Linked DNA regions of Homo sapiens. The protein of the gene in region 2 purifies or fractionates together with the protein of the main gene of each other region. This does not show direct contact. Each region holds a gene or a part of one and is shown on either strand. Other genes may lie near its edges.

What was found.
Region 1: the proteins of NXPH2 (region 2) and PCDH7 purify together in Homo sapiens (affinity purification with mass spectrometry; 3 studies listed by BioGRID and IntAct, with this or other methods). This does not show direct contact.

The regions. Positions count from the first base shown.
Region 1 is NC_000004.12:31,139,869-31,143,368, forward strand, and holds part of PCDH7 (protocadherin-7 isoform d precursor), read left to right. Parts: intron 1-2,604; coding exon 2,605-2,981; 3' UTR 2,982-3,500.
Region 2 is NC_000002.12:138,777,591-138,781,675, reverse strand, and holds the start of NXPH2 (neurexophilin-2 precursor), read left to right. Parts: upstream 1-1,285; 5' UTR 1,286-1,434; coding exon 1,435-1,485; intron 1,486-4,085. UniProt on the Homo sapiens protein: May be signaling molecules that resemble neuropeptides and that act by binding to alpha-neurexins and possibly other receptors.

The sequences.
Region 1 (3,500 bases), on a different chromosome or scaffold from region 2:
CCCCAATCAAGTGTTTTACTTTGGAAATGACAGGAGATCCTTATTAAAAGTCATGCTTCTTGGATAGAGATGTGGCAGCTTGCATGTATATGATGGCACAGAAGACAAGCTGCCTTTCGTTAAAAGCAATAGAGGAAATCAATTTTGGCAGAAAATACTCCAGACTGTGAAGTAAAGACTGAAGGAAAGAACTGAAGAGCATCTCACTTATAGCTGATTGGAGATTCAGTCAATCTATTTAATAAATGATTATAATCTCTTATGAGCTGTAGGTAGTTTAGGTACACAAGTTAAAAAGTAAGAAGACTTGTTTGAGCATGAATATAGAATTACAAGCTGTTTATAATGCATCTCAAACAACAGGAAAACAAGTGCAATGAATTTCAAACTAAAAACACAAATTAATCCCTGAAAAGCAGCCACCTGTATAAGTCACTGTGTAAGTGAAATGACATATTGTGTGAGACATAAATGTGGAGAGATGATTGGAGACAATTCAGGGTCATTTCTGCAGGGAATAACAACCACATTCATAAAGATTTTTTTATATTTTAGAAGCTAAATTCCTGATTATTTTCCCATGTCCTTGCTATTCACTATCATAAGAAAAGAGGAGCAATTTGAATTTGTTGAAGCAGTGAAAAAAAAAAAAGGAAATATTTTGAGTAAAATGCAGACCTGATCTTACACTTTGCATTTCTATCCTTTTTTCCCCCTGTTCAAAGCATTTAGGTCAGGTTAAAAAAAAAAAAAAAAGAAAAGAAAAAAGGATCCCAAAATAGGAAATATTCTCAAAGAACTTGCAGTTTGTTCATTTAAACCAACTAGATTACAAAAACCACTAATAAAATTTGTCAATAATTTGATTATTATAATGCATCTAAGATACGTATTTGAGAAACAGACAATTTAGGGTAAAAAAATGAGTGGGAAAGTACTTTTTTCTTTTGATGAAAAAATTAAGAGAATCTGCTCACTTGTAAGTCAAATGGCAGCATCGGCAACTGGAATAAATAATTAACCTTACATTTTACCTACAGGAAAGGGTCAGCTAATTCTAGATTTCCGGTGTAGAACACTAGAATTTCCTTGTTAACGCTTAGTCAAGGGCATAAAAATCCCAGGACGCTGTTTCAATAATCGATGGGCCGACAAATGTCAATACTTCAGTTACCCATCATTGAAGGAAAAAATGACAAACATTAGTGGCGAGCCTTCATTTAGGAGATTTAGCCAAGTAAAACGTCTAAAATATCCTATACAAATGTTAAACTACAGGGGATGGGGTGTGGAAGCAAAAGCAGAAAGTGTACATATCTTGGGAATAATTTAAATAACTTCCTCTTCTATTTTAAACGAATCTACTAGGATTGTGCATATGCACATCTCACTGATTCCACTGGTTGCAAATATATTTTCAGAGGTCAAATTCGTCAGTCTTTAAGTCCCAAGCCTTGTAATAAAATGATACCATGTGATAACAACTGGAATGCAGTCATATTATGTTCTTTTGTTTGGCAATAAAAAACAATAAAACATTTTAAATAAAACCCTTCAGGTTATTGCCTCAGAATCTGTTGAAGTAGAACAGGCTTTTCTCTCTCCCATTCTCTCTTTCTCAAACAAAGTCTGTAAAAACATGTTTAATATTTAGAAAATACATAACCATTCTCCAAAGACAGACACATGCTTTCAATTATACATACAGGTAATTATTAACTGTCATCTTTAATCTTGTTTCCTAAGAATTCTTTGTACATGATTTAGCCTTTTAGAAGTAAAAGTCATTTCCCATTCCATTGGACAGCACCATTAATTAGAGTACAGGCTAGTTCATCCAAAGTTTAGTAACTTACCCGTATTCACCCAGTACATTACATTTCAGATAAGATGGCCTGTGTATTTTGATGTGAACACATCAGCACATATTAGGTCATTTGGCATGGTAGGAGGGGGGTGAGGGGATGTGGGCTAGGGTGGGCAGGTGCGTGATATTGCTAGTATGCTTATACCTGTAACTACTGGTTCCTTGCTTTTTAGTTTTTACCACATAATGTGCTGTCAATTTAGGTTCTACTTATGAGTCACCCCATGTCTTAGAATGTATTTTAAATATAAGGTTTTGCATATTTGCATTCTATGAATAATGTATAAGCAGGAAGAAATCCAATTGGCAAAAGCACACCACTTCTGGGATAATTTATAAATCCAGAAAATTGTCTATTTGGATTTAATAATTTTTCTTATGGATGTGGAAAATATTAGCACCCATACAAATTTACCTATGTATTTAGAGCTTCTAACTGAGACCATCCTCATGTCCCTGTCCTGTAACAAACACACATATATCTGTTTCATCTACACACTTAAATGTATCATTTTGTCTACTTTCCTGTTCTATAATATTGGATGTCCTTGCAAAACCTTATCTTTGATGCACATGGGATTAAAAACTGTCCTATGGAATGATGAGCTAGAGGGTGTTGGGAAATGAGAAATAAGATGGTAAGGAATATATTTATATATTTCCTCTAATTTCATATAGATCAGGGGAGCCTGTTGAGGAGTGTCAAATACTAATGGCTTATTCTCCTTGGATTTCAGATTCAAGGCCTCTTCCAGATGTAGCCCTGACTGGGAAGTGCACTCGTGAGTGTGATGAGTATGGCCACTCAGACTCCTGCTGGATGCCGGTCCGCACTTCTCCGGAGAGGAAGAAGAGCCAGCCTAAACTGTCCACTTTCATGCCTGTTGATGAACGAGGAAGCCAGGAAAAGCTGGCCAATGGGGAGGCCGCCATCATGGGTGACCGCAACAGAAACCTCCTGAACAAAAAGTTGACCTCATCCTATGAGACCTTCAGTGCAGCTAGTTTCAGCAAAAATGAGGAAGCCAACCCTGAGGATATTCCCCTTACAAAAACAGGGGAATATAAGCCATCTCCTGTCAATACTCTCACTAGAAGAGAAGTTTACCTGTAGGCTATAAAGGAGCAACAGCAAAGTTCTTTACATGTATGAAAAGGAGAATAAGGGGCAAAAACCTTACAAAGCAAAACGTTTAATCACAAAGAGGGGGCTACCAAAGAGACAAAGCTTTGCCTGCCACTTCTGCCTCCAGATCAGGCCTTTAGTGATACTGTTAGCCTGATTCTACTGTACAATGTAGAAACCATCCTTGTTACTTGCATGTCTAACCCCTTCACTGATTCCCAACACTCACTTTCTCTTCCCCACCCCTCTCCAAAAAAAAAAAAACAAAAAGAAAAGAAAAAAAAAGGGGGATAGTTGCAAGTTTCTTTCACAGTAACTGTACGAAGCCTGATTAGCAGAACACAACACACCCTCATTATCCCTAAGCTGAAGCATGATTTTAGTCACTTTGATTTTGTTCGAGTGTCATCTGGCTGGTCAAAAATAAGCAGGACAGATAAAATGTATTTCAGACATACCATCAGAAAATGGTTTATCACCATCAAAGGCAATCCTTTGAAAGTGATA
Region 2 (4,085 bases):
CCCTTGCTTCAACATGGTTTTCTTCTCTAAGAGCTTTGCGTTTCTAGATGTAAGAAGCATTCTCGCCTTGGGTATTCTGTCGGAGCAACTGCCTAAAGTCTCATCCTTGGAGAAGTGAATGTATCTCTCTGGACCTTAGGTTTCCCACCTGTTCAATAAAGGAGTGACGAATGACGCCCAAACTCTGATCTACCGTAAAAACAGTGCAGGTCTGTGAGCCCCATTGCCTTTGATTTTTCCACTCGAGTGTCCAGCACAAAGATAGTAAAAGGTTAAGGATCTCTCCAATGGCGAGTTGTTAACACGGAGGTCGAGGCTCACAGGCATCAGGTTTGCACCTTCGCCCGTCCGCAAAGATACCCCTCTCCAATATTTCTGAAGTCGGAGGCTGTGGTGGGGTATCCTGCCTTTATTCTGCTTCTCCAAAGCCCGGGCAGAAGGTCTGGGAGCAACTTTGTCTGTCTTCAGGACACCTAGCTGTCTATACCATCCCCAAACCGGAGTAAACCAGACATCACCTAGCTCCGTTTCTCACAGTTCTGCTCCTGGTCCCTCGAGGTCCCCATTACTCCCCAACCCCAGAAATCCTTCCAGCCGCACCAGGCGCACTTTGTACCCCTTACCCGCGGCTCTGCGAGCTTGGCGCTGCGGCAGAGTAGGGCACTCTCCCAGGGCGTCCTGGGCTCCAGCCTCACCTCCCCGCCCCAGCCTTTTCCGTTCGCAGCTCCCCACGCCCCGCCCCAGGACTCTGCAATCGCCTTCCCCTCCTAAACTCTCTGGGCGCTCTCCAGGCGGGCGCACTCTTTCTTGCAGCCACCCAGGGAGAACCTTTTCTTCCCCTCATCCCCAATCTCCCCAGCCAAAGCGAGAGCCAGTCAGTTGGCAGGGCGCTTGGCACAGTGGAGCCTCTCGGACCGGCCTTCTGCTGGGCGGGGGTGGGAGGAGGCACCCGGCCTCTCGGGGCTCTGGGGCACCGGCTGGCCAGGCGTGCTCAGCTCGGCCAGGCATCCGCCCGGCGGGATCGGATCTGGAGGGCAGCCTCGCACTGAACCCATCACCCAAGCGCCCGAGCCGCCGCCTCCCTCCCGCAGGCGCCCCACGCGCTCACCCCAAGCCCGGCCAAGCGGGAGAGTCCAAGGCGCGACTGAAGCCCCCCGCCGCGTGCCGGAGCTCGAGCTGCCCCGCAGGCTCTTTGCCGGCCCCCTCCGAGGAGGGGCGCGCGGGGGGCCGGGAGAGGCACCTCCGGTCCGCCCACCCTCCCCCTTCCCTGCCCGCCCACCCGGCCAGAGCTGCGCGGCACGGCGCAGCGCTCGGATTCCGGGAGGGAAGCGCCGCGCTGTGTCCCTGGCGTCCTCAGTCCTGCCCCGCGAAGTGGAGATGCGCGAGAGGCAGGCGAGGGCGCGCAGCTCGTGAAAAGCCGCGCCAGCCGGCACCATGCGCCTGCGGCCGCTGCCCCTCGTGGTGGTCCCTGGCTTGCTGCAGCTGGTGAGTGCCCGGCCCGCGCGCCGTCCCACACGCCGGGGACGCGTTTCGGCGGGAAAACCGCGCAGGCGGCTGACTTGGAGCCCAGCCTGGGCCTGCTTGGGAAGTGGGGTTGGGGGCGCGCGGAGGGCAAGGAGTTTTGGGTTGCCTTAGAGGTCGAAAGGGAAGAATTGAAGAACGGAATAGACGGGATCTACAGGCGACTCAGGGGCTTAGCACGGGTTGGGACTTGAGCGCTGGGGTAAAGTAGGCAGAAGGTGGCCGGGAAGTAGGTCCGGGAGAAGGAAGCGGTTTATTGATAAGCGGTCAAGGAGAGGAAGGAAAGTAAATTGATAGGATGAGAAGGGGCAGAAAGACCTTCCTCCTGTTCACAGTTTGAGAGGCTTGGTGGTGTTTATTTTTCACGTGGTGTTTTGCCCAGATGCACACAGACACTTCTCCCAAAGCACAGCATAGTGCATGCATCCTCGTTCTCAGAGCCAGGTAGTGGCGCCTTGCTGGGAGAAAACTTAGGCAAAATACGGATTTGGGGGACAGCTTGGATTTCTCTTCGTTTTCCGTCTGGCGCTAGGGACTGGGATGGGGCTTTCTGCCAGCTGGGGACACAAGATATAACTTTCATGCCCAGCTCCGCGCAGGAGCCCCCTCTCGGGCATCTCGAAGCTGTCTTTTCAGGGAGACCGCCCGCCTGGTCTGGGTGGCTCGGAGGCGCTGAGGAATAAGAAACGTATTAAAATGTGGTTTGGGGTTCGCGTTGTCACTCTCTTCTCTCTTCCCGCGAGGCGCCACGCTCTCCTCCTCCTGATATACGCCTATGTTCTATATGCATGGCTAATTATAGTTGAGGGAAAACCAAAGTAAGATCTTCAAGAAGAAACTTTTAAAGTAAAATTACAGAAGGGGAGTGCTTTGGCTGGGTCAGCATCTGTGATGGATTTCTTCTGGTCACTTAGCTCTTGCCTTGTTAGGGTGCTATTAAGAGGGCTTTCTCCTGATGCCATAGTTTCTTTGGTCCTCATACTTAAGACTTTGCCCAAGCACTTAGAAGATGACAGTCTCTTCTCTCTCGCTCGCTCTCTCTCTCGTTCTCTTTGTCTCTTTCTTTTCCTATTAGGGGGAAAATCAAGTAACTTTGAAAGTTTATGATATGTATGATATTGTTAAGGCAGAGGCACTTTGCAAGTTCTGAGGGTGGAAGGAACTCTAAAAGGTGGAGAGACCTCTGAGATGCCCGTGGTCCATGCTTGTTACGGTGGAGATTAGCTTCACCTGCACAGCGTTAACTCAGAAACTCTTCAATGGCATCAAGAAGAAAATGCAATGATATGCCCAAATATCCTTGAATGAGCCATCACATACTGGCTATCTACAATACTCCATGTTAAAATACATTTTACATCTTAGGCATTATGAATCCAAAATATATGCCACATTAATCTTTAGTATCCCTTGCTTTAAAATTTTTTAGTCTGGATTCTAATAAAAGGTGATCTAACAAAGCAGCATTTGTATGGTGTGTGTAAGGAAAAGCCTGGGGAAATCAGGTGTTTATGTGGGGTCTTCAGAATATCTTCACGAATCTTAGTTCATTAATTTTGCATTTAATAAATATGAACTGTGTATCTGCTCCGTAAGCAGTGTGATAGGCTCTTAAAGATGAGAAAATATATTTGGGCACGTGTCGGGGAAAAGTTCTTCTCCCAGCTACTATATTGGAAATGTTAGATATTTTTTTTTTCCACACCGCCATAGTCAGTAAGGAATAGGAAATACATCTTGAAGGGATTATATGCTCTCCTTAAGAGCTAGATTCTAATATTACAGCATGGACTGATGGATTTGCTTTTAAAAAAGCTTATGTCAAATTCTAATCCATTTTGGGATTGTGCTTGGGTTGTAATGTTTTTCTCCTGGAGCACTTTATCATGGTAAGTGAGGTAGGGAGCTGCAGCCCTGTTGATAAGCACACATTCCTTACGCTGCCATCCCTTCGGACAATAAAAGGCTGTTTACATTCTCCACATTCTTAGAGCTGTTGCCAGCCTTATAACACAAGGGGGTTAGAATGTGAAAGGAAAACAGAGTGGCTGAGCATATCTAAATTGAAATATTCCCCAATCCCAGCATATGCCCTACTCCAGTAGGTGTCAAAAAGGACAGATCATGATTTGCTCATTTGGATGGCTCATAGTTTTGTTCTACCTTTTTCAGCTGATATTGAACTTCTTTGTTAAATCCTAACAGCAAGGGGATAAAATATTTTCTAGATATGAAACTAGTCATTTACTTTTCTAGGAACCATATGTACTAAAAAAATCTGCCCTTTGCTGACATAAGGCTTTTTTTTTTTTTTTTTTTTTTTAATTTTTTGGTGAGGGAGGAGTGAAGTTACCTTATTGTCGAAATTGGATTTTACTTTTCTATCTGCACTGCCAGCCTGAAGAACATACTTATAAAAAATATTAAATATTTTAAAAGAATAATAGATTCATTTGGGCATATTGAACATTTAGTGATATGAAAATTACCTGTTTGTTTCTGAAAGCAGTCACAGGGAATTGAGCCCAAATAAGTCACTAACTATGGTTATATATAACATATAT